Homo sapiens: one gene and its partners. The protein of the gene in region 2 interacts with the protein of the main gene of each other region in a pairwise test. Each region holds a gene or a part of one and is shown on either strand. Other genes may lie near its edges.

Region 1 (8,147 bases), on a different chromosome or scaffold from region 2:
AAATTAAATAAATAAATAAATTCTGGGAGCAGTGAGCACTCACGGCTCTCGTGGGGCCACCTCTGACCAGGCCCTGTGCTCTCTGGCCCCTTCCTGGGCCCCAGTGGGTTGGAGATCAAGGCCCAGAGGGCAGGGTCTGAGCCCTCTGCCCAGAGCAGAACAAAGCGCTGAGCAAGAACACAGCAGGAGACGGGAAACACACCTGCCCGGGCAGCGCAATGTGCAAAGTTTACAAACGGTGCTCACAGCTCTCATCTCCCCTGAGCAGCCCCATTTCCCAGATGAGAAGACTGAGACCAGGAAAGAGAAAGAGATGCTCCAAAGGCAGTCTATGAATGAGTGAGGAAGCAGTGAGAGGAAGGAACAGAACTGAGCCCTCACTGTGGGTCAGGACCAAAGCAAAAACCTTAGAGACAGGATTTCACCTGATTCTCACTGCAGTCCTACGGGGACTGGATTGTAGCATTTATACCACCTGACTCCCAGACTGGGAAAAGGAGGCTGCAGAGGAGGGTGGAGTTGCTCCTGGTTGTCCATGGATAAGAGCCGAGCTGGCCACCTGTCTGCCCGGCCTGTTTGCCTGGGTCTGCTGTTGGTGGCTGGGATGTTAGGCTAGGCTGTGTGTGACGCTGGGCAGGACGCTGCCCCTCGCTTAGCCTGAGGGGCTCTGGGGCCTGTGTCTGCACTATGCACAGGGGAAGGTATATGGTGACGGGGGTTGGGGGTGGTTGGCTGGGCTGCTCCTCACCTGGCTTGGTGACATGTAGCTCAGGTATCGCATTGCAGGGCACCTGGCCGTCACTGAGGGCACCGACTATCAGCACCGCGTCGAAGGTCCCTGTGTGTGTGTGGGGGGGGGTGGGGACATGGTGTGATGCTTGGAAGGTACTTTGTCTATGGTGTGGCCTCAGACCACCCTAGGGGTGGGACGAGGCTACTACCCGCATCTGCAGGACCCAGGTCCCCTAGAGGATAAGGTAAGTATGGCCCAGTTCTGGGCTGCAGTCAGATCGTGGGGTGCAGGGTTGAGTGAGGGACTGGGAGCTTAGTGTGGGAGAGGGATGGAGGATCAGCAAGGGAAAGGGCTTCATGAGGGTGGGCCTCGGGGTGTGGAGGTGGGAGAGAAAGTACCTTCCGGGCTGGGCAGAGGCTCCTGGCCCAGGGTGCAGAGGCTGAGGCGCTGATAGAGGCCGGGGGCCTGGGCCTGTTCCAGCATCCCTGGGCTCCCATCCACCCCATGCAGCTGGAGGAAGCCTGGAGCCCGCAGCTGGGGTAGGGGTGGGAGACTCAGTCATGGTTCACACCTGCCACTTCCCGGCTGGGTCCCTGCACCTTGGCAGGGCAGTGGACTCTGCACTGAATGTGGCCCATGCATTTGCTTTTTTTAAATTTTTGAGACAAGGTCTCTCTCTGTCGCCCAAACTGGAGTGCAGTGGCGTGATCATAGCTCACTGCAGCCTTGAACTTCCGGGCTCAAGTGATCCTCCCACCTCAGCCTCCCATGTAGCTGGGACTACAGGCGTGCACCACCCTGCCTGGCTAATTTTTAAATCTGTTTGTAGAGACAGGGGTCTTGCTATGTTGCCCAGGCTGACCTCAAACTCCTGGCCCCAAGCTGTCCTCCTGCCTCGGCCTCCCATAGTGTGAGCCACAGTATGCCTGGTCCTGTCTCATGCATTTGAAACAGTGAGTCTGAGGTGTGGGGCAGGGTTCTGGGGCCAGGGGCAGTAGGAGATTTGAGGAAGTGCGGGGCTAAGGAGTAGGCAGGGGATCTGGAAGAGCCTCACCTCGGCAGCCACTAGGCCTGTGCCACAGGCCACGTCCAGGATCAGGGCACTGTGGGGCGGGCCTGGAAGGGCTTGTGTGAGGCAGTCCACTGCGAGGCGGGGCGCACGGTACAGCAGGGTGGCCACATCCTGGGGAAAGAGTGCCGGGCCTACAACACCGGTGCCCCAGTGTTTGGGGGATCTCCCTTATGGGGTGGTCTCAGAGTCTGCCAGGCTAAGCTGTGTGTGTTGGGGATCAAGCCTGGCTGGGGCTAGCGTGAGGGGACGCCCAGGCATGAGGTGCTTCCCATTGCTAAAGGGCCAGGACTGGAGAGTTAGCCCCCAGCCCACTGTACAGTAGACTCAGCCCTCCAGGGACCTTCTCTCCTGGCCAAGCGGCTCTCTCTGCTGAGTCCACATGACTTTTTTTTTTTTTTTTTTTGAGACAGAGTCTCCCTCTGTCACTCGGGCTGGAGTGCAGTGAAGAGATCTTGGCTCACTGCAACCTCTGTGTCCCGGATTCAGGCAATTCTCCTGCATCAGCCTCCAGGGTAGCTGGGATTACCAGGCGCCTGCCACCACGTGGGCCTGGCTAATTTTTGTATTTTTAGTAGAGTCAGGGTTGCACCATGCTGGCCAGGCTGGTCTCGAACTCCTGACCTCAGGTGATCCGCCCGCCTCGGCCTCCCAAAGGGCTTAGGATTACGGCTTGTGAGCCACCGCGCCCGGCCCCACAGTGACTTCTCAATAGCACCTCCTCCAGGCAGCCCCCCTCAGGAGGTCATGGCCCCTGATGGGGCTGCCAATCCAGAGCTGTGGGGCGGGTTCTGGAAGGGGCAGGACTGTAGGGTTCTTAGCCAGGCCTCACTTCGTCCTCACAGCCGCCCCCGGGTGCAAGGCTGATTCCCCACTTTACAGGTAGAAAAATGGAGGCTGGTCTAGTGGAGGCAAGGCCCCAAATGAGTTTACCTGGTCGTAGTCCGGAGCCCAGCGGTCATAGAAATGGAGCTTTTGGGCCAGGTCGGGGATGCCATGCGCGGCCCTGACCCGCGCCCGCACCTCGGGCAGGCTCCCACCCTCCTCCTGGGCCATGCTCCTGTGGGGACACCGTTGCCCTGTCTCGAGGTCCACCTCAATCGCCCATCCCCTCCTTTCCCCCTTCCCTCCTCCCCCTTCAGAGGAGGCTGCCAGGCCTCCTGCCAGCGCGACCCCTATCCCGGCCCCTATCCCAGATGGGGACACTGAGCGCAGAGAGGGCGGGCTTGGATATTTACACTCTGGGGCTGCAGGGCTGGGGGAAGGGCAAGGTGGGAGAAGGGGGTGCCCCGCGGCTGGAGGAAGGACCTATCTTCCTCTTTTCCGCCCTCCGACTGAGAGAGGGTCGGAGGTGGGCGACATCCGGAGCGAAACGGTCTCGAAGGAGGCCGGAGTCAGAACTCACCGCCAATCCAGCGCGCCTCGGGCGTGTGGGCAACAGGACTCGGGGCGGGGCCTGTGTTGCGACCCTGGCCACACCCTCACCGCCTGCCCGCAATGATTGGTTTTCCGCTGAGAGAAAATAGCCAGTCAAAGGAAGGCGCTGGCAGTCTGCCCGCCCCCCCCCCCCCCGCCAGCCAATGAGCTCAAGGCTTGTGGCCCTCCTCCAGCCTTGGTAGAGCAGGGACTGCGGAGATGTTTTCCTGCTGTGCGGGTTTAGGGGCTTCTCGGTGGTCTGGCCCCGGCCTCCCCCTCCACCGTCAGGTAGCAGCACCTCCACCATCCCCCTCCAACTGCCCTCCTGCCTCCTGAAGTCCTTTATGCTTCCTGAAAGCATGAGGTTTGTAGGCACTGGGGAGTCTCTGAATTCTTATGGGCAGGAGAGGGACCTAGGATTAGCTTTCATTTTTACTTTGTATTTATATTTACTTATTTTGTTTTATTTTTGTTTTGTTTTATGAGACAGGGTCTCACTCTGTCGCCCAGGCTGGAGTGCAGTGGCTTGACCATAGCTCACTGCAGCCTTGAACTCAAGCTCAAGCCAGCCTCCTGCCTCAGCCTTCTGAGTAGCTGAGTAGCTGGGACTACAGGTGCATGCCACCTTGCCCGGCTTTTTAAATTTTTATCTATTTATTTTTATCTTCGTAGTTTTTGTAGAGACAAAAAATGTTGTCCAGGCTGGTCTTAAACTCCTAGTCTCAAGCGATTCTCCCACCTCTGCCTCCTGGCAAATTTTATTTTAATAATTTTATTTTAAAAAACCGTACTGGCAAATTTTATTTTAATAAGTTAAATAGCCACATGTGGCTAGTGGCTACTGTATTGGACAGCAGAGAGAGTCTTGCGGCTGGAAGTGTGACCTGAAGATACGCAGCGTCAGCCTCCGTAACATCTTGGTTTCCTCTAGGAGATGCCCTAGGGAAGCTTGTGAGAAATGCAAAAATTAGGCCGGGGCGCAGTGGCTCACACCTGTAATCCCAGCACTTTGGGAGGCTGAGGTGGGCGGGTCACTTGAGGACAGGAGTTTGAGACCAGCCTGGCTAACAGGACAAAACCCCATCTCTACTAAAAATACAAAAATTAGCCGGGCGTGGTGGCGGGCATCTGTAATTCCAGCTACTCAGGAGGCTGAGGTGGGAGAATAGCTTGAACTTGGGAGGCACAGATTGCAGTGAGCAGAGACTGCGCCACTGCACTTCAGCCTGGGTGACAGAGCAAGACTCCATCTCAAATAAAAAAAAAAAGTAAAAATTCTCAGTTGACCTGGGACCTTCTGAATGAGAATTAGATTTCTGGGACTGGGGCCCAGAGTTTCTGTGTTTCTACAAACTCTGCAGGCGATTTCTAGGCAGCTGAAGGTTCAGAAGCGCTGGTCTAGAGGACCTGTGTTGGAATCAAGGGTTTGGGCAGGCAGAATTTGGCAGGCTGTTGCAGGTGTCCAGGCAGGAGGTGATGGTTGCATGACCTTGGGTAGAGGTCATGACTGCGGAGAGGAGTGGGTGATCTTCAGAGATGTTTAGGGGGTAGAAGTGTCGAAGTGTCAGAGATGTTTGAACCAGAGCAACTCCATCTTGAATAGCGGCTGAGTAAAATAAGACTGAGACCTACTGGACTGCATTCCCAGATGGTGAAGGCATTCTTTTTTTATGAGATGGGGTCTCGCTCTGTCACCCAGACTGGAGTGCAGTGGCTCAATCTCAGCTCATGCAACTTCCACTTCCTGCCTCAGCCTGCTGAGTAGCTGAGATTACAGGGGAAAGGCTTATCAGAAACTCAAAGAATAGGACCATTTGTCTTTCACCTTCCTGTGACCCGGAGCCCCCTCCCTGCTTCGAGTTGTCGCCACCTTTCTAGACAAAACCAATGTACTTCTTACATATATTGATTGATGTCTCGTGTCTCCCTAAAATGTATAAAACCAAGCTGTGCCCCGACCACCTTGGGCACATGACGTCAGGACCTCCTGAGGCTGTGTCACAGGCGTGCGTCCTCAATCTTGGCAAAATAAACTCTCCAAATTAACTGAGACCTGTCTTAGATTTTCTGGTTTTACAGGGTGATGAGTAGAAGGAACCCTGTAGCGTTGGAGGAGAGTGGGAGATATTAGAGTAAACTCATGGGTTTTAACATAAATAAATGGAAAGATATGTAAATAGACATACATGTATGTGTGTGTATTTGTGAGTTTCCTAGCTTTGTCTGCCAAAATGACCTAAACACAATTAACGCTTCAGTAGTAATCACCACAACGAGCATCCAGATCTGGTTCTAAAAATGCATTCTTGCCAGGTGCAGTGGCTCATGTGTGTAATTCTAGCACTTTGGGAGGCCGAGGCGGGTGGATCACTTGAGGTCAGGAGTTCAAGACCAGCCTGGCCAACATGGTAAAACCCCGTCTCTACTAAAAATACAAAAATTACCTGGGAGTGGTAGCACACGCACCTGTAATCCAGCTACTCAGGAGGCTGAGGCAGGAGAATCGCTTGAAACTGGGAGGCGGAGGTTGCGGTGAGCAGAAATTGCACCACTGCACTCCAACCTGGGCAACACAGCGAGACCCCATCTCTTTAAAAAAAAAAAAAAGCGTTATCAACTAAAAGGAACCAGAGCTCCTTAGAGAAACAGCTGATGAAATGACTGAAACGCTTGGGGCAGGAAAAGTATGAGATGTGCCTGAAACATCTTGAAATACCTCAAAGCACAAGCCTCCTCCGGTTTTTCTCCTCCTTGGCCCAGGAGCCTGTTCTAGCCTTGGGGCTGGAAGGCCTTTCTCTGACTCATCAAGTTTTATTTTTTTTGCCTCTAATCCTTTACTCCCCTCAAGTCTTAAGTTTTTGGAGCCTCAAAGCCTTTTCTGTGTCTTTTGCTGAAAATGACCCTCTCACTCCTGTGGGCGGAGGATTACCTAGGTGCCGAGGCAAGAGACTGAAGGCACAAACTGTTTCAGTATAATAAAGAAAATGGAATAAGAATAGTCATAATACAAATTAGATGTAGAGATGATCATGGACAATTATCAATCATTATTATAAACATTATTAATCATTAGCTTTTAATTACTAATATAACCTAGGAATAACTGGCAGGTATAGGGTCAGGTGCTCAAGAGACATTGTGAGAAGTGACCTAGAAGGCAAGAGGTAGCCTTCTGTCACGCCCACATAAGGGCTACTTGAGGGCTCCTTGGTCAAGCGGTAACGCCAGTGTCTGGGAAGGCACCCGTTACTTAGCAGACCACGAAAGGGAGTCTCCTTTCCTTGGAGGAGTCAGGGAACACTCTGCTCCAGCAGCTTCTTGTGGAAGGCTGGATATTACCCAGGCCTGCCCGCAGTCATCCGGAGGCCTAAACCCCTCCCTGTGGGGCTGTGCTTCAATAGTCATGCTCCCTGTTCACTTTCATGTTCCTCCTCTACTCCTGGTTCCTCTTTGAAGTTCGTAGTAGACAGCGATAGAAGAAATACTGAAAGTCTTAAAGTATTTGGTCTTTCTTATGAATGCATAGAAGAAAACGCTGACGTATGCTGCCTTCTCTCTCTCTGTTTCGGCTACCTAAGAGGGAAGGGCCCCCTGTCCTACGATCATGTGACTTGCTTCACCTTGTCAATCACTTAGAAGATTCACCCTCCTTACCCTGCCCCCTTGTCTCCTATGCAATAAATATCAGCACTTCCAGCCGGTTCAGGGCCACTACCGGTCTCTGCATCTTGATGGTAGTGGTCCCCCGGGCCCAACTGTTTTCTCTTTATCTCTTTGTCTTGTGTCTTTATTTATTACTATCTCTCATCTCCGCACACGGGGAGAACACCCGCTAAGCCCCATAGGGCTGGACCCTACATACTACGGGCCGTGGATATCAAGCTTCCCCTCCCACCAAGTCTAGTTGCTGCCAAAGTGACAGAGGGAGCTTGGGGGCTTGGGGAAGAGAAAACAGTTTGGGGTGGGAGATGTATTAAAATGATCCATTGGCTGGGTGCAGTGGCTCACACCTGTAATCCCAGCACTTTGGGAGGCCGAGGCTGGAGGATCGCTTGAGCCCAGGAGTTTGAGACCAGCCTGGGCAACATAGGAAGACCCTGTCTCTACAAAAAACTTCAAAAATTACCTGGGTGTGGTGGTACGTGCCTGTGGTCCCAACTGCTCAGGAGGCTGAGGTGGATCGCTTGAACCCAGGAGGTTGAGGCTGCAGTGAGCTAGGACTGTGCCACTGCACTGTAGCCTGAGCAACAGAGCAGACACTGTCTCAAAAAAACAAAAAAAAAAAAACAAAAAAAAACACGACAAAAACCAACCCCAAGTGGTTTAAATATTAGGGGTTTGGTATTTTTCTTACAGCAAGAAGGCCAGTGGTCAGCAGCACAGGGGCCAGGCCAGGGGCCCACTGATCTCACAAGGGCCCTGGTGCCAACCTCTCACTTGCCACATTGTGTGTTTGCACTGTTGGCTCCTTCTGGTCACAAATGGTGGCAGCAACTTGAACATTCCTTGCATCCTTACATTCAAAGCCCAAGGCAGGCCAGGTGTGGTGGCTCATGCCTGTAATCCTAGCACTTTGGGAGGCCGAAGTGGGTGGATCGCTTGAAGTCAGGAGTTCGAGACCAGCCTGGCCAACATGGCGAAAACCTGTCTCTATTAAAAATACAAAAATTAGCTGGGCATGCTGGCGGGCACCTGTAGTCCCAGCTACTCGGGAGACTGAGGCAGGAGAATTGCTTGAACCTGGGAGGCGGAAGTTGCAGTGAGCCAGGATTGCGCCATTGCACTCCAGCCTAGCAACAGAGCGAGTCCATCTCAAAGAAAAAAATACAAACAAAACAAAGCCCAAAGTAGGCTAGGAATGGCAGGAGCTTTTCCTTGTTTCTCCTTCCCTCCCTCCCTCCCTCCCTTCCTCCCTCCCTCTCTCCCTTT
Region 2 (8,347 bases):
CCCTGGCATTATCTTCTTATCCTGCTTTATTTTTCTTCAAAGCACTTAACACTACCAGACATTAAAAATTTATAACATTTTATTGTCTTTTCCACTTGATGGTAGGAAGTAAACGATTATGTTTTCCATATTCCCAGAGTCTACAACAGTGCCTAGCAGACAACAGTCATTCAACAGCTATTAAATAAAGGGAAAAATAATGGATTAATATCTCTTCTTCTCAAGGCCAAGATGTTCCTGAATGTTATCTATAATCGCTGAACATTTTCCAAGCATAACTCCTTCCTCCTCCTGCCCCAAGAAAATGATCTCTTGAGACTTTTCAAGGTATCCTACAAACTACTACTGGCCACATTCTAGTTTCAACTTCCCGCCTTACTACTAGCAGCTTTCTGCTTCCTCCTCTTAAATCTGTTATTTCATTAACACCACACTTCTCTGCAATTATTCTTTATTCTTTCGGGGTATGTGAAAGCACTCACCTACTCCCCCAACATATCAACCCTTCAAGTACTTCAAAAAAGTTTTCATGAATCCTATTATATGAATATTATATATTAATGCCCTACTATTCTTCATATAAATACGCTAGGTCCTTCCATCTAACTAGTCCTTAAATTAATATCTCTAGACCCCTCACCATGCTCTCAACAGATATTTTATTAATAAATCTTCAATGAAATGGGTCATTAAAACTAAATATAACACTCTAAGGTCAATGCAGAACAGAGTGAACTGCATTCCACTCTAGGGATGCCATGCTTATCTTAATGCAAAATAAGAATACAGTTAGCTTTTTATCTGCCAGTTCTCACAATGGACTTCTCGTGAAGACAGTGATTAACAGAAATCTCCACACAACCAACTCTTCGCCTTCTGCAATGCCTTCTGCAATGCTTTCGGTATTCAGGAACTACTTATTAAATACCTACTATGTGCCAACTCTAAAGTATAATTACTTCACCAAGATGGTAAATATTCCATCTTGCTTGCTCTGGCAGCCTAAGAGTAATAAAGACCTTTCAATAAATCAATGTATTTGTTACCTTCTCCTTCCTACAAGAAGTGTAAACCAGCAATAATGTAAAAGGAACCAGTGCTTAGCTTCAGTGAGCTGGTACTATCTATTCCCAGCAGCACCTAGAAAAGTGCCTGACATATAGAATTTAAAGACTTTGTTTAAATTTTTTAATTATGGGAGAAGAAAGCTGTAATATAGATCAGTTTTTACATCCGACCCCTCACACTGTACCTTCTTTATGTAGCTAGAAGTGACTTCCATCAGACACACTCCTAATTAAGAAAAAAATTCCAGCTTTGAAGATAATTGATGGTATGTCCTTCTGACTGGGGTACGGGTTTGTTGCCCAATTTCAATGGATTTAAAATTTGAGGGCCGGGCACGGTGGCTCACACCTGTAATCCCAGCACTTTGGGAGGCCGAGGCGGGCAGATCACGAGGTCAGGAGTCCAAGACCAGACCGATCAACAGGGTGAAACCCTGTCTCTACTAAAAATACAAAAATGAGCCAGTTGTCGTGGCGCACGCCTGTAATCCCAGATACTCAGGAGACTGAGGCAGGAGAATCGCTTGAACCCGGGAGGCGGAGGTTGCAGTGAGCTGGGGGATCACGCCACTGCACTACAGCCTGGGCGACAGAGCCAGACTCCGTCTCAAAAAAAAAAAAAAATTGAGTCACGTATACTTTCTATCTGCCGTGTTTACCTGCAAATTCACTTTTTGTGTTTCCTATTGACTGTAAACATCTTGTGGCCAGGAACCAGTGCTTCTTTCCTAAAGCTGTCGTTTGCTCTTGCAGTCATCTCCCCAGAGTAAACACAAAAGTATCTCAAAAGTAAGTGTGCAACAAAACTTTCCCTTCAAGGGGAAATCCCAACCCAACATTACTTCACATACAGAATTCTGGTACTCATTTTCTCTTCCAAAGTAGAGACTGGTATTAACTAGTTCCTAGAACTGCCAGTAGGAGCCCTACGACAAGCTCTTCTCCCATCTTGTCCTTGCCCCGCCCCCTCTGAAGTCCAGAAATGACTCGGCTTCTAACTTGTATAATATAACCCTCTACCAGGTACACTTTTCTCAGCACTGGGAATAATCTGACACGCCCAAGGTCATATAAAAAGCCTGCCTCCTGAACCAGGTTCTAGGTTCGGCGGACAAACTTCTGGTTCTACTACCTCTAAGGGTAAGACCCTGCTCAATTTCAGAGGCTGTGGCTTAAGCACCTCCTGAGGGGAGCAGTTTCCTTCAAGAAATACTAAGCCAAGTCAACCTGTAATTATTCTAAAGAATGCCAAGAGGCCTCAAACCCTGCCTCAAAGGCAGTGCAGCAAGACGGTAAAGATTCTCACTACTAGCTATGTGATCTTAAGTCCTCCAAGGCTCACTTTCATCACATTCGAAATGAAAACAACCATATCTGAATTTGGAGGAATCCTTGTGATGATTAAATGAGACAGTGCATCCAAAATACTTACTGTAGTGTCCAGCAAAGCAAACTCTTAAAGTTAGCTAGAATCATCACTATAAACCAGGCTGGGCCTCCAGCCGGCGCTTGATTAAGCGCTGACTTAGCCAAGGAACTAGGCTCCGATTCTATGACCCCAATCAACTTATTCCCGTAGGCGCCACTCCACACCCTTCCGAGCTCCTTCGGGTATTGGGCGCCGGCCGCCCCAAACCTCCCAAAGCCCCTCTCCTCTCAATCCAAACGCTTGGAGGCAGGCTGCACCAAGGCATTAGCTGGCGCACTCCCCTCCCGGAGCCCCCCAGGCGCGCCTCCTGGCCACCGCAGCCAGGGGTTGCCTCTCTCCCCTCCCCCTCCGCGACCTCCCTTCCCCTCCCCCCATGCAAGGCCCCGCCCGCCCTCCCCCCCGGCCTCGTCCTCCCTCCCACCCCCTCCTCCCTCCCACCCCCTCCTCCCTCCAGCCCCTTCCCACAGTGCCTCCGACCCCAGCTGCCGCGCGGTTCGAACGAGGCCCTCCCAGCGCCTCCTAGTCTCCCGGCCTCCTCGGACAGAGCGCCCGCAACCCCCGTCTCCAGTGGCCATACCGGCTTGCGGAGGCCGCGGCCGCCGCCTCTCCGCAGGTCTCCGCTGAATGGGCGGACGCGAGGCCACTGGACTGGGGCGTCGCGGGGAGGCGGTGGTCACGGCCCCCTCGGTTGCCCTTCGCGACCGCCGCACCTCGCTCGCAGGCTCGCGCGGGCCCCGGCCAATCGCGCTGACCCAACAAGCCTAGCGAGAACTTGGGCTCTGTACGTGGCAGGTGGGGGAAGAACAGAGGCGGGAGCAAGAAAAAAAAAAATGTCCTTTCGCCCCTCCTTATTGCGCGTGGACATACCCAGGACGCATGCGCGACGGCGCGAGGCGCAGGGCTGGCTGGGTCCCGGCTGCCTAGGCCGAAGAGTCCCTGCTTTCTCACTGGATGACGGGATTTAGGAAGCGTGAGCTGCCCCGATGCACGCATGCGCGGGGCGTGACCACGCACTTCCGGTTTTCTCGAAAGCGGGTATTTCCGTTTCTCGCCAATGGGCGGGGCGTAGTGCGCTGTTCTAAACTTTTTGAGAGTTGGTTGCAGTAGACGTCTGTCCAACTTTAAGTGGTTTTTGTCGTTATTGTTGACCATTGTAGTAACAGCTGAAAAAGAAAAAACCTTTTCTTCTATAAATCCATTCATTCATTATTGGGAGCCTATGCTTTGCCAAGCCCGGTTCTAGGAATGGGGGTGAATCATTTTGTGAGCAAGGAGTTTCCAATTAAGCAGGGAAGACCTACAGCGTTTATGAGCAAGGAAAATCTGTAACTGTGTAAAGGACAAAAGCTGGGAAATTAAGGCTAAAGATTCCTGAGTGATTTTTAGAGGATAAGGCATTTGAGTGTGTCCTACGTACTCTTCCCTTCTCCCTTACCTGTTCAAATAGAAATACAGTATGAGTAAGTAGGAATTTATAGCCAAGGGGTGGAAGTCGGTCAGTGGATGGAAAATTACTAAGAGGAAATATCAGGGGCAAGGGAGATTCTGGCTAAACCAACACAACAGGATTCTAGACGAAGATAGGCCAGGATAGCAGACATCACCTGGGGGTGGTGGAGGATGAGGAACCCCATCAAGGGTGAGGGATTCTCACTACACTGCCTTAACAAGGTTCTTTGCTGAAACTGAGTTTTACAAGAAGATGCACAGATGGTCCTAGGAGAAGGCCCAGGAGCCCGAAGTTTGGCCAAACGGAGAATGTTTGTCACTTCTAAGGTGGAGACTAAGCTGATAAATAAAGCATTTAGACCCTACCTGGTCTCCAGTTGTTTACCAGTTATAAAAGAAAAACTTAAGCTGAATTAAATTTAAAGGAGTTTAATTGAGCAGTGAACGATTTCACGAATTGGGCAGCCCCCAGAATCACAGCAGATTAAGAGACTCCAGCAGAGCCACGTGGTGGAAGATTTATAGACAAAAAAAGGGAAATGAGGTACAGAAATTGGCAGTGAAGTACAGAAACAGCTGGATTGGTTACAGGTTGGCGTTGGCCTTATTTGAACACTTAGCAGTCTATGAGTGATTGAAGTGTGGCGGCTGGAATTGGCCAAGACTCGCTTATTGTAAGAGACGCATACTTCTAAGTTAGGTTTTCAATCTTGTCTGTTAAGCTAGGTTACAGTTCATCCACAAGGATTCAAGTATAGATGTATGGAGTCCTTCTCAGGCCATATTTAGTTTGCTTTAACACCAGATACTCCTAAAGGACCTGGAGTAAATTCTGGTGTTTCAGGGTGAGAAGCTACGTTCTTTTACAACCATAAGTAGTGTGATCTTTTTCAGTTATAAGTCTCTGAAACTTCTGTTTGAGAGTGAAATAATGTAAGTTTACACTGTTCACTTCTGATTTGTATTTTCCAACAGTTGTATTGACCTTTGAGCAATTGTTTGCAGGGATAAGGGAGTGGAGTACTGCAGAAGAAATGAAAAACAGTTCCTAATTGCTCTCCAAAGAATGTTATTCATTGCTTATTTTTTAAAACTGAATAATACAGATTTGGGGAGATGCACTGCTGTCAGATAATAGTATTATGATGTCATTAAGATGGTTTGGGATGGGGTAAAACCACAACCATATGGCAAAGGTAAAATATTCCCTGAAGGAAGTGAATTATACTACTGTTATAGTAGTATATTTAAACTAAAAAGAGGTCAGATCCTGAGGCAGGAGATAAGGAGGTGAACCTTGGCCTATTATAAGGTGAAAAGAGTATCTGCTGAGGATCCCCAGTGAGGGGGCACTCAAGAGTCCTGCTACTGAGGAGAAATAAGCTGGTCCCTGTTACACTGTGGTCATCTGTACGCTAGGAAGAGAGGCACCCATAAGCTGGCCTTGTGGAAAAGCTGGAGCTCATGGAGCTCATGGACTCCGAAAGCAACTTGAGGCTCTTTATGTTGTAATTTCCCTCATGCTTCATCCCGAAGCCATCAGTAAAGTCTTCTTTATGGTAAAGCCTATTCCCAGCTACTTCTGTGGAACTTGAGAGGTGGGGTTCTGGTGATTTCTCAAGTCGAAGCTGATGCACATCTATGTACTTAAGCTCCCAATAAATACAGGTGATATCTAGTGACAGAGCCATAACCTGAATTGAACCAGTTACCTCACTTACAAGAAGATGGGTCTCTTCTACTATGTCTGTAGATACATACTGGCCTTCTTTTCTGCATCTAGATGAATTTGGTTTTAAATGAACACTGAGCATAGTCTTGAACTAGAAAATACTACTCATTTCTTCCAAGGAACTGCTAAGAAAAAAAAGAAAAGAAAATACTGCTTAATGGTAGTATATTAAAGTTGAGGATATGTGAAGGAAGGAGAAGGAGTGCAAGGAAATATCTTTGACCCAGACTGTAGCAAGGAAAGATATGAGATTCTGCACTACACAGGTTATTTTCCATGTTTCATCTGAAGAAGGGTTAAGACTTACACTGTGATTTTAAGAGAAGGAGTCAACCAACCAACTTAGCTACCACCTGCTCTTTCTCCCTGAAAGTCTGTGTAGCTAAAACTCCTCACATGGAATGGGGGGAAAAAATCCTAAGAATGAAAACGGGATTCTCAGACTGGACAAGAAATGAGACAAAGACTATGAGCCCTGTTAGCAAGTTAGATAAAATCTATGTTTCATCATGTTCTTCTTTAGTACTTAGTATAAATCATTTTGAAAATTTGAGTCATCTTATATGTCCTCAGAAGAACAAAGGAAAGCGTGTACATTCCTCCTTGGATGAGAATTTCCAACGAGAAGTTATGTCCCTTGCCAAGAATCAGCTCTGTTGTGGCAGCAGCTAGCTAAAAAAAGAGAACTCCAAACAGAAGGGGAATCATGAGGACCAAACAGGAGCCAGCTAGTCAGCTCAGCCTCACCTTCACTGGCTAAATGTAAAGATTTGCTTGTGTGAACATAGGAAGCTGCCACCCTATGCAGAGATAATGAAGGAGAAAGGAACGATTTCTTACTTTGTACCTTTGAGTGAGTGATTCTTAGCACTAGCTAAGCAAAATACTTCAACCTGTCCTACCAGCTTCACATCCGTGAAATCCCTAAAATGCTTTTGCCTTACCATGATGCTCTATGTCCAATCTCTCTTTAGAGAAACTACTCTCAAAGGCAGTTCTTCCTAGATTTTGTATCACTAGAGGCTGATCTAGACATTCAATACATAGTTATTGAATAAAATAATGAAAACTAAGTTCCCCACCACTTTACAGGGCAAGCTCCCAGAAAAAACAAAAGGATCAGCTGTCAACGGGTAAGTTCCTAACTCCCTAGCCATGTAGGATTTGTCTCTTAGTAATTTGAAATCATTCACTTTTCTTCATTTACATCCCCTGGAGACAGTGCTAAGTTACCTCTCTGCTAAATTACCTGTCAGATTTCAAGTTGAAAGAGAAATGCAATTGTGAGCTGAATTGCATCCTTCCCCCAGAATTCATATATTGAACCACCTCAAAAGGTGACTGTATTTGGAGATGGATTCTTTAAAGAGGTGATTAAGTTAAAACGAGGTCATTGGGGTGAGCCCCTAATTCAGTATGACTGATGTCCTTATAAGAAGAGGAGATTAGGACACACAGAGAGAAACCAGAGATGGGTGCACACAGAGGCAAGGCCATGTGAAGATACATTAAGAAGGCAGCCTTCTGCAAGCCAAGGAGAGAGCCCTCAGAAGAAACCAAACTTACCAAATTTTTATTTCCAGCCTCCAGAACTATGAGAAAATAAATTTCTGATGTTTAAGCCACCCAGTCTGTGGTGTTTTGTTATGGTAGCCCTAGTAGACTCATACAAATGCCACAAGATGTGCAAGAAGATATAACTTTTCATTTGATCAAGAGTAGCTTTGTTAGGCTCATTTAAGAAACCTAGGCCCAATTAGCCGGGCATGGTGACATTCGCCTGTAATTCCAGATACTGGGGAGACTGAGACAGGAGAATTGCTTGAACCTGGGAGGTGGAGGTTGCAGTGAGCCAAGTTCGTGCCACTGCACTCCAGCCTGGGTGACAGAGCGAGACTCCAGCTCCAAAAGAAAGAAAGAAACCGAAGCCCAGTGTGGTGGCTCCTCATGCCTATAATCCCAGCACTTTGGGAGCCCAAGGCAGGATGATCACTTGACCCCAGAGTTTAAAACCAGCCTGGGCAATATAGTGAGACCCTGTCTCTACTAAAAATAAAAATCAAAAAAATTAGCCAGGCATAGTGGCATGTACGTGTAGTCTCAGCTACTTGGGAGGCTGAGGCAGGAGGATCCCTTGAGCCCAAGAAGGTCAAGGCTTCAGTGAGCCATGATCTCACGCCATTGCACTCCAGCCTGGGTGACAGAGTGAGACTCTCTCAAAAAAAAAAAAAAAAAAAAAAAAGAAGAAAAAGAAAAGTAAAAGAAACCTAGTTGCCAGAGTCTAGGAATCATGCATATCAGAGACAAAATCAAACTCTGGGTACTTGGAGACACTCATGTCTCTAATCTAACATTTATGCCAAGGATCCTGCTTTTAGTCCCTCCATATAAATGCATAATTAAACAGCATTCTCAAAAAGCCATTTCAATAAAGAGAGACTTATAATAAAAGATGCAAAGTAAAACCACAATGAGATACCATTTTTCATATATTCATCTGAGAAAAATAAAATAGTTACATAACACTTTGTAAAAAAAAAAAGTATGTGGCAAAATAGGCATTCATGCTTTGTTGTGGGGACATTAGTTTGTATCAACATCTAAAATGCCTTATGACACAACAATTTCATTTACAGTGTACCAGAGAAACGCTTGCACATAAGAGCACAC
Region 3 (7,892 bases), on a different chromosome or scaffold from region 2:
TGTGTGTACCTGGCCAGGGGTGTGTGTGCGTGGGCAGGGATGTGTGTGTGCATGGACAGGTATGTGTGCATGGGCAGGGGTGTGTGTGCGTGGGTGTGTGTGCCTGGGCAGGGGTGTGTGTGCGTGGGTGTGTGTGCCTGGGCAGGGGTATGTGTGGTCTCGACCCTGTGCTGCTCCCTATATGCAGGAGGACCCCGGAGCATCGAGTCTCCTGAGCCTCAGCCTCAATGCTAACCTGAGGGGCGGTGCCTCTGGTCCCCTCGTGGGCTTGGGTGGCGCTGGGAGATGATTAGGGGCCTGTAGTGCCTGGCACAGGGCTGCCCCAACAGTGGTGGTTGCTGGCGCATTCTTATATCAGCCCCGCCCCTGGCGAGTCCCACCCATCTGCTGCCTGTGGGGTGCCCTTGCGGAACTTTGGGGCCCTGAGGGTGGGCAGGGAGCCGCCTTGTCCCTGGAGACAGGGGCTTCCTGTAGAGCTCCAGGGACCAGCTATGGGAAACTCCCAACCTCTGACTCAGCATGGGATGGGGCTGGGGGAGGGGGAGGGGTCTGGGATAGCGGCTGCCCCTCCCCCAGCTCTGCCCCCAGCCAGGCAGGCTTTGTGTTCTCTGAGCTCTGTGTCCTCCGGTCCCCTCTGCCTCAGGCAGCTGCATGTTTGCCTCTGACCTCCTCAGGGCTTTAGATTGCTGCCCTGGGGCGGGAAGCTCCGGCCTCCTCCCCCAGCTGGGCCCCCGACAGCTCCTGGCATTCACAGTGAACTGTCTGGGGAATCATCGCTATTTGGGGTAAGCGGCTGGTGGGCGGCTCTCCCAGACCTTTCTCAGAACCTGCAGTCACCCATATGAGCTGCTGACCGGCCTGGCCGGCCTGGGCACGTACGCATGTCGTGGCCCTGCTCATCCAGCAACCGAGGCCTCCCATGACCTGCTGGGTCCTCGTCCACGGGGACTGCAGCTCCATCTGCTGGGGATTCTCAAGGGCAAGCAGCTGTCAGGACACTCTCCCTGCAGGAAGCGTGGCTCCTGCGTGGGTGGCAGGCCCAGTCGGGCCCCGTGAGCAGAGGAGGAGGGACTCCCGCCCACCTCCACGCTGGGTAAGGGAGTCCTCCGAAGGACAGAGCTCTTGGGCTGGGAGGACCTCCTGTGGCGGCGGCCTGGAGACACGGATGTGGTCTCGGGTTGGGTGCTCTGAGGGTCTGCAGGATGGACGAGGCTCCAGCCACCGCCTCACACAGCAGGTGACCATCGTGGGTCCAGCCAAGCCCAGCCTTGGTGGCCGTGGCCGCCCATGGGGGCAGAATCCTGGCAGCCCTGGCCTAGCTCTGACCAAGTGTTAACTCCCTTCATCCTGATCACCCTGGACCAAGGCCTGGGTCATGGGGAGGTGAGGGGCTGGTAGCCCCTTCCAGGGAGTCTGCCAAGAGCCCACAGCTGGCCCCCCCCCGGCCTTGACTGTTCCCTCAGAACGGGGTGGGGGACCTAGTGAAAGTAAACAGTTCATGAACCCAGCTGGGAGCTTGACCAGCAGAGCTGCCTCGGATTTGGGACTCATCCTTGGAAGGGGTGGCCCCAGGCATCGCCCCTCTTTGCTCTTGTGCCTGTCCCCTGAGTCTCCGTCCTTGAGTTTCTTCCCAGGGGCAAGCTGGTGCGGCAGCGGGGGCCCGGGCCTGTGTGGAGGCCCAGTCGTTTTAGCTGGAAGGAGCTTGAAGGGCGAAGGGCACCAACTGGACAGGGCACCAGGACAGGAGGTCCAAATGGGCCCGCCTTTGGGGACAGTCCCTGGGGCTGCCCCTGGACAACAGAGGGACGGCACCAGTGCGTGGGATCGTGGCAGGGGGCTCTGTAAGGAGCCCCAGGCCTCTGACCACTTCCCACCCGCCCTCCCTGCTGTCCAGCATCCCAGGTCCGGGTCCCGCCCCAAGTGCTTGCTGTGTGCTGCCTCTGGGAGCTGAGCTCAGCTCCTGCCACGTCCATGTATGTGTGAGTGTGCATGCAGATGCATGTCTGTGTGTGCACACGTGGGGCCCGACCACCAGGCCCGTGGCACCCTCCTCACCCCTCCTTGCCTTCAGGTTCTTCGAGGACCTGGAGCAGCGGCACAAGGCCCAGGTGCTGGTCGAGGACATCAGTGACATCCTGGAGGAGCACGCTGAGAAGCACTTCCACCCCTACATCGCCTACTGCTCCAACGAGGTCTACCAACAGCGCACGCTGCAGAAGCTGATGTGAGTGGGCGGCCCCGAGGCCCGCAGGGTGGCTCAGGAGCATCCTGCACCCTGGTCTCCCAAAGCACATTCCTGCTCCCAGCCCAGCTTCTGCAGGTCCTGCCTGATTTTGGTACAGGCTGGCCATGCAGAGCCTGGAAGGACAGCCTTGTCCTCTTGCAGAAGCAGCAACGCCGCCTTCCGAGAGGCCCTGAGAGAGATTGAGAGGCGGCCGGCGTGCGGGGGCCTGCCCATGCTCTCCTTCCTGATCCTCCCCATGCAGCGGGTGACCCGGCTGCCCCTCCTGATGGATGTAAGTCCACGGCCTGAGGGTGGGGCCGGGCATACCATCCTGGGGTCCCACGGCCAGAGCCCTGCCCCGGATGGAGCATTACGTGCTTGTGACCTTCTCCTCCAGGCTTGGCCTATGATATTGTAATAGTTACGATCCTAAGATGGCTTTATTAACCAGGATAACTTTGTGGTCGCCGCCACCCACAGAGCTCACTGTGCCGGGAACTGTTCCAGCCCTTGGCGGATTTGTGTTCACTTACTCAATGGTTCATGAGGTTCAGGCACACTGACGAGTTGGAACTGGCATCACCCAGAGCCCTGCTGAGCCTCCTCCCAGCCCCCACCCCACCAGTCCTCCTAGACGTGGTAGCCCTGTCCCTGGCACCTACTCTCCCTGTTCTGTGGACGCAGAGAGGGGCTCAGAGAGGCTCACCAGCATGGGCTGTGTGTGTGGGATGCCAGCCCACAGGGCAGAGGGTATATGAGGGTGAAAGGTGTACACACACACGCACACATGTATATACAGTGTACACGCACTCAGGCACGTATGTGCCCATGTGCACACAATGCATATGTATGGATGCACGCCAGTACACACATGCATGCACACTTGCACACACTGCATTGCACCGATGCATGCACATGTGCACACAATGCACACGTTTGCATACATGCACACACAGGCACTGCACACACATGCACCCGGTGCACACACATACACGTGGATGCACACACATGCATGCACATGGTGCACAGGCATATTCACACATGTGCATGCTGCCCATACACACAGCCCCGCACATGGCAGGACTGAGCTAAGCTTCCTGAGGCTACACATGGCAGGGTTGCCCAAGCCAAACAGAACCTCAAACTCCTGGGGGCCCCAGGGATGTGCAGAAATGGGGCTGCCAGGGGGCCTCCACTGACGATTCCCCAAGTTGGATGGAGATGGCCGAGGATGGGAAGGGAAGGGTTCCAGGCAGGGGTGCTAGCTCCTGTTCCCACTCAACCTGGCCTGACCTGGCAGAGCTCCAGGTGGTGCAGAGGCCGTTCAGGGGCTGTACGTGCTGTGGGGCCCTGCAGGAGCCCCCTGGGGGCAGCTGTTGACCACCCTGCAGCCCCACACGGGGTCTGGCGTTGGTGGGAGCCTCCACACCTGGGATGCCAGAGGGGACTTTCTGTCCCATGTCTGTTGTCCATCCAGACGCTCTGCCTCAAGACCCAGGGCCACTCCGAAAGGTACAAGGCTGCCAGCCGTGCACTGAAGGCCATCAGCAAGGTAAGATGGGGCCTGGCCCCAGCCCTACCCGAGTCCTGTACCCCGACCCTGTCCCCACCCAACCCCACCCTACCCGATGGCATAGGGCTGGCTTCCCCTACCTTCCAGGGCAGCGAGTGTTCTCAGATTATCCATCCCAAGCCTTTCACAGCGCTGACAGGGAAACTGAGGCCCAGAGGTTCCCAGATTATCCATCCCAAGCCTTTCACAGCGCTGACAGGGAAACTGAGGCCCAGAGGTTCCCAGATTATCCATCCCAAGCCTTTCACAGCGCTGACAGGGAAACTGAGGCCCAGAGGTTCCCAGATTATCCATCCCAGGCCTTTCACGGCGCTGACAGGGAAACTGAGGCCCAGAGGTTCCCAGATTATCCATCCCAGGCCTTTCACGGCGCTGACAGGGAAACTGAGGCCCAGAGGTTCCCAGATTATCCATCCCAGGCCTTTCACGGCGCTGACAGGGAAACTGAGGCCCAGAGGTTCCCAGATTATCCATCCCAGGCCTTTCACGGCGCTGACAGGGAAACTGAGGCCCAGAGGTTCCCAGATTATCCATCCCAGGCCTTTCACGGCGCTGACAGGGAAACTGAGGCCCAGAGGTTCCCAGATTATCCATCCCAGGCCTTTCACAGCGCTGACAGGGAAACTGAGGCCCAGAGGTTCCCAGATTATCCATCCCAGGCCTTTCACAGCGCTGACAGGGAAACTGAGGCCCAGAGGTTCCCAGATTATCCATCCCAGGCCTTTCACAGCGCTGACAGGGAAACTGAGGCCCAGAGGTTCCCAGATTATCCATCCCAGGCCTTTCACAGCGCTGACAGGGAAACTGAGGCCCAGAGGTTCCCAGATTATCCATCCCAGGCCTTTCACAGCGCTGACAGGGAAACTGAGGCCCAGAGGTTCCCAGATTATCCATCCCAGGCCTTTCACAGCGCTGACAGGGAAACTGAGGCCCAGAGGTTCCCAGATTATCCATCCCAAGCCTTTCACAGTGCTGACAGGGAAACTGAGGCCTAGAGCCAGTGGAGCTCTCACACAGTTGATGAGCCCGTGGCACGGCTGGTCCAGGGCAGGCACTGTGGGCAGCCAGAGGCTGGCTGGGCAGGTGTCCTGGGCACACTGTGGGCCGTGTGGGCTGTGCCAGGGCCCTGTAGCACCAGCCTCTCACACGGGAACCATGCCCTGCAGCTGGTGAGGCAGTGCAACGAGGGGGCCCACAGGATGGAGCGCATGGAGCAGATGTACACGCTGCACACACAGCTGGACTTCAGCAAGGTCAAGGTAGGTGGCCCCGGACATCAGGGCCACTCGGACCACTTCCCACTCAGCCCTCCCTGCTGGCCTGCGTGTGAGGTCACACCCCTGAGCCTGAGGGCTGGAGAGTGGGTGCCTGCCCTCATGAGGCCTGGGGGCTGGGCCTCCTAGGGCTGGTGGCTCTGGTCTCTCCAGGCCTCAGTCTCCCGATCTGGGAGCGCCCCTTGTGGACCCCTCCCCTAATCCCACTGGGTGGGCCTCTGTGGCCCTTGCCCCATCCCCAGGACTGCACCGGCAAAGGGTAGACCCTAGGCCCTGAGTGACCAAGCCCAGGGGGCAACAGGAGTGGCCCTGTCAGTGCACTTGCCTGGGGCCAGCGCTCCTTGCTGGCCCCTCAGGGGCTGGGCAGGGCCTGAGGACAGAGCGGAGGGGACAGGGTGATTTCAGGGCCAGCCCAGATTCCATGTTTCCCAGTGAGGCTTGGATTCTGGGTAGGGTGAAATATTTCCAGCCCAGGCCCGGGCAGCCCTAGTCCCTGCCACAAACGGGCAGGGCTCATACCTCTCCCTCCAGAGCCCCCCACCCACGATCCCACACACTGGCCGCATCCTCTGTTGTCCTGGGACAGCCCAGGGCCCCTCCCCTAAGGCGGGCCCAGGTGGGTCTCCTGTCCTGGTGCCCCATCCAGGGGGTGTCCTTCAGGGTGGAGCAAGAAGTGGGTGACAGGCCACCAGCCACCCTCACTCAGGGCCACGGACAACCAAGTAAGGGTGCGGGGTCCCAGCTGGGGGAGGGGGCTCCCGGGGTGGGTCAGGGCGGGCTGCCTGGGGCAGGCGTCAGGGCGGTGACTTCGCGCCGCTGTCGCTGAGCCCACACCCGTGCAGCCCTCACGCTTGTCTCCCTGATCCTCTCGAGTCTGGGGTGTAACGCCTGCCCCTGCCAGAGCAAGGACCCCCTCCCAGGCCTGGTCCACCCCTGAGTGGGGCTCTCACCCCCACATGGTCTTGAAGTTGGTCTTGGAAACGGGTGTGGGGGTGGGGAGAACAGGCCCATCCAGGAGGGAGGGTGGTGGCAGAGGCCGGGAGCGGGAGGTGCCGGGGGCTCTGAGTCTGTAGTGGGCACAGGTGGGGAAGCCGGGGCCCACAGGGAGCAGGTGAGGAGGTGTCAACAGTCGCTGAGGAGCGGGAGCTGGTGGGCAGGCTCCTCATTCCCACTCTGCCCTCCCCCCCACCCTGTACTGCCACCCCCTACTGCGACACCCATCCCCGTCACCCCCACACTACCCACCCCATCACCCCCACACTGCCCACCCTCTGGCCTTTGCCATCCTTCTGCCCCCCACTGACTCCAGCAACTCAGCACCAGGCAGCAGGGAGGATGTTCTGTGGCTCAGGAGCCAGGAAAGGCCCCAGACGTGGAGCGTGGCCATCACGGGTGGGCCTGCCCCTGCCAACCCTCCCTCGGGGCTGAGCAGGTCCTTGTGCCTAGGAGGCCCAGCGTCTGCGTAATTGCCACGGAGGGGTGAGGTGTGTGTGGAGGCTTCCCCAGCACTGGCCTTCGAGTCCTGGCTTGGGTGAAATGTTCAGTGGTCACCCAGCCCTGGGCTATCGGGCAGGGTCTGGTCCGGCCTGGCGCACCTCGATTTGAGGCCCGGACACATTGTGCCCCTTTCCTCTGTCCAGCCCCGACTGAGGGCAGCCAGCTGGTCACCCAGTCCAGAGGCAGGAGTCAGTCCCACCTGGTGCTATGCGTCCTTGACCCCCTGGGGACCTGCTCACCCCGGCTCTGTCCCCCCCAGTCCCTCGCACTGATCTCCGCCTCCCGGCTCTGTCCCCCCAGTCCCTCCCACTGATCTCTGCCTCCCGGTGGCTGCTGAAGCGCGGAGAGCTGTTCTTAGTGGAAGAAACCGGACTTTTTCGAAAAATTGCCAGCCGGCCAACGTGCTACCTTTTCCTGTTCAACGATGTCCTGGTTGTGACCAAGAAGAAGAGGTGGCCTTAGGGCAGGAGGGTGTGGGGAGCCCCACTCCATGGACACTGGACCGCTGGCCCTGGGGCAGGAGGGTACAGGGAGTTGGCCCTGAGCCCCTCTGACCTCAGAGCCGAGGCGCGGCTTCCACTCGGCACATGCTCTACGTGACACTCGGGGGCAGGTGGCGCTCGCTGTGCAGCCTCTGACCTCCTCTGCAGACCTGGGTCTGCCGGTGATAGCCACGAGGAGGACTCGAAAGCCATGGCCTCTGTTCTGTGGGACGCGGGAACTCTTGGAGCCCGTCCGTGGCTGCCTCCCCACCACTGCAGGGGAGCCGGGTGGGACCTGGACGGGAGCCCAGCAGCACTGGGTAGGAGCTGGGTGGGACCGTCCCACCGACTGCCCGTGTCTCCACAGCGAGGAGAGCTACATGGTCCAGGACTACGCCCAGATGAACCACATCCAGGTGGAGAAGATAGAGCCGTCTGAGCTCCCTCTGCCCGGGGGCGGCAACCGTAGCTCCTCCGTGCCCCACCCCTTCCAGGTGACCCTGCTTCGCAACAGCGAGGGCCGCCAGGAGCAGCTCCTGCTCTCCTCGGACTCCGCGTAAGTGGGCTCCCGGGAGGGCTGTTCCCAGGCCACAGGCACATTAGCTCCATGGGGACCGGGTTGTCCCCCTGCCTTGCTCGCTGTTGCATGGCTGGCTCTGAACGCCCACCGTGCACCTGGCCCTGCTGTAGGTGCTGAGGTAGAGCCAGAAACAACAGAAATGGCCTTGTCCTCATGGAGTTTATGTTCCCGGGAGGGGACGCACCAACAGTTGGGCCACCAGGAGTGGGAACAAGGGAGGAAACGAGGTGGGGGGTGGGGTGCGGGGGGTGCCGTGAGGAAA

What was found.
Region 1: the proteins of TFG (region 2) and METTL27 interact in binary tests that used the Homo sapiens proteins (3 or more experiments, as listed by UniProt).
Region 3: the proteins of TFG (region 2) and ARHGEF16 interact in binary tests that used the Homo sapiens proteins (3 or more experiments, as listed by UniProt).

Annotation. Positions count from the first base shown.
Region 1 is NC_000007.14:73,839,283-73,847,429, forward strand, and holds the start of METTL27 (methyltransferase-like protein 27), read right to left. Parts: upstream 3,235-8,147; 5' UTR 3,208-3,234; exon of another isoform or gene 3,041-3,207; intron 2,863-3,040; 5' UTR 2,859-2,862; coding exon 2,736-2,858; intron 1,917-2,735; coding exon 1,788-1,916; intron 1,268-1,787; coding exon 1,132-1,267; intron 839-1,131; coding exon 749-838; intron 1-748.
Region 2 is NC_000003.12:100,704,448-100,712,794, reverse strand, and holds the start of TFG (protein TFG), read right to left. Parts: upstream 3,302-8,347; 5' UTR 3,074-3,301; exon of another isoform or gene 2,974-3,073; intron 2,870-2,973; exon of another isoform or gene 1,727-2,869; intron 1-1,726. UniProt on the Homo sapiens protein: Plays a role in the normal dynamic function of the endoplasmic reticulum (ER) and its associated microtubules. Required for secretory cargo traffic from the endoplasmic reticulum to the Golgi apparatus.
Region 3 is NC_000001.11:3,471,007-3,478,898, forward strand, and holds part of ARHGEF16 (rho guanine nucleotide exchange factor 16), read left to right. Parts: intron 1-2,071; coding exon 2,072-2,224; intron 2,225-2,386; coding exon 2,387-2,516; intron 2,517-3,701; coding exon 3,702-3,776; intron 3,777-4,963; coding exon 4,964-5,056; intron 5,057-6,868; coding exon 6,869-7,020; intron 7,021-7,417; coding exon 7,418-7,606; intron 7,607-7,892. UniProt on the Homo sapiens protein: Guanyl-nucleotide exchange factor of the RHOG GTPase stimulating the exchange of RHOG-associated GDP for GTP. May play a role in chemotactic cell migration by mediating the activation of RAC1 by EPHA2.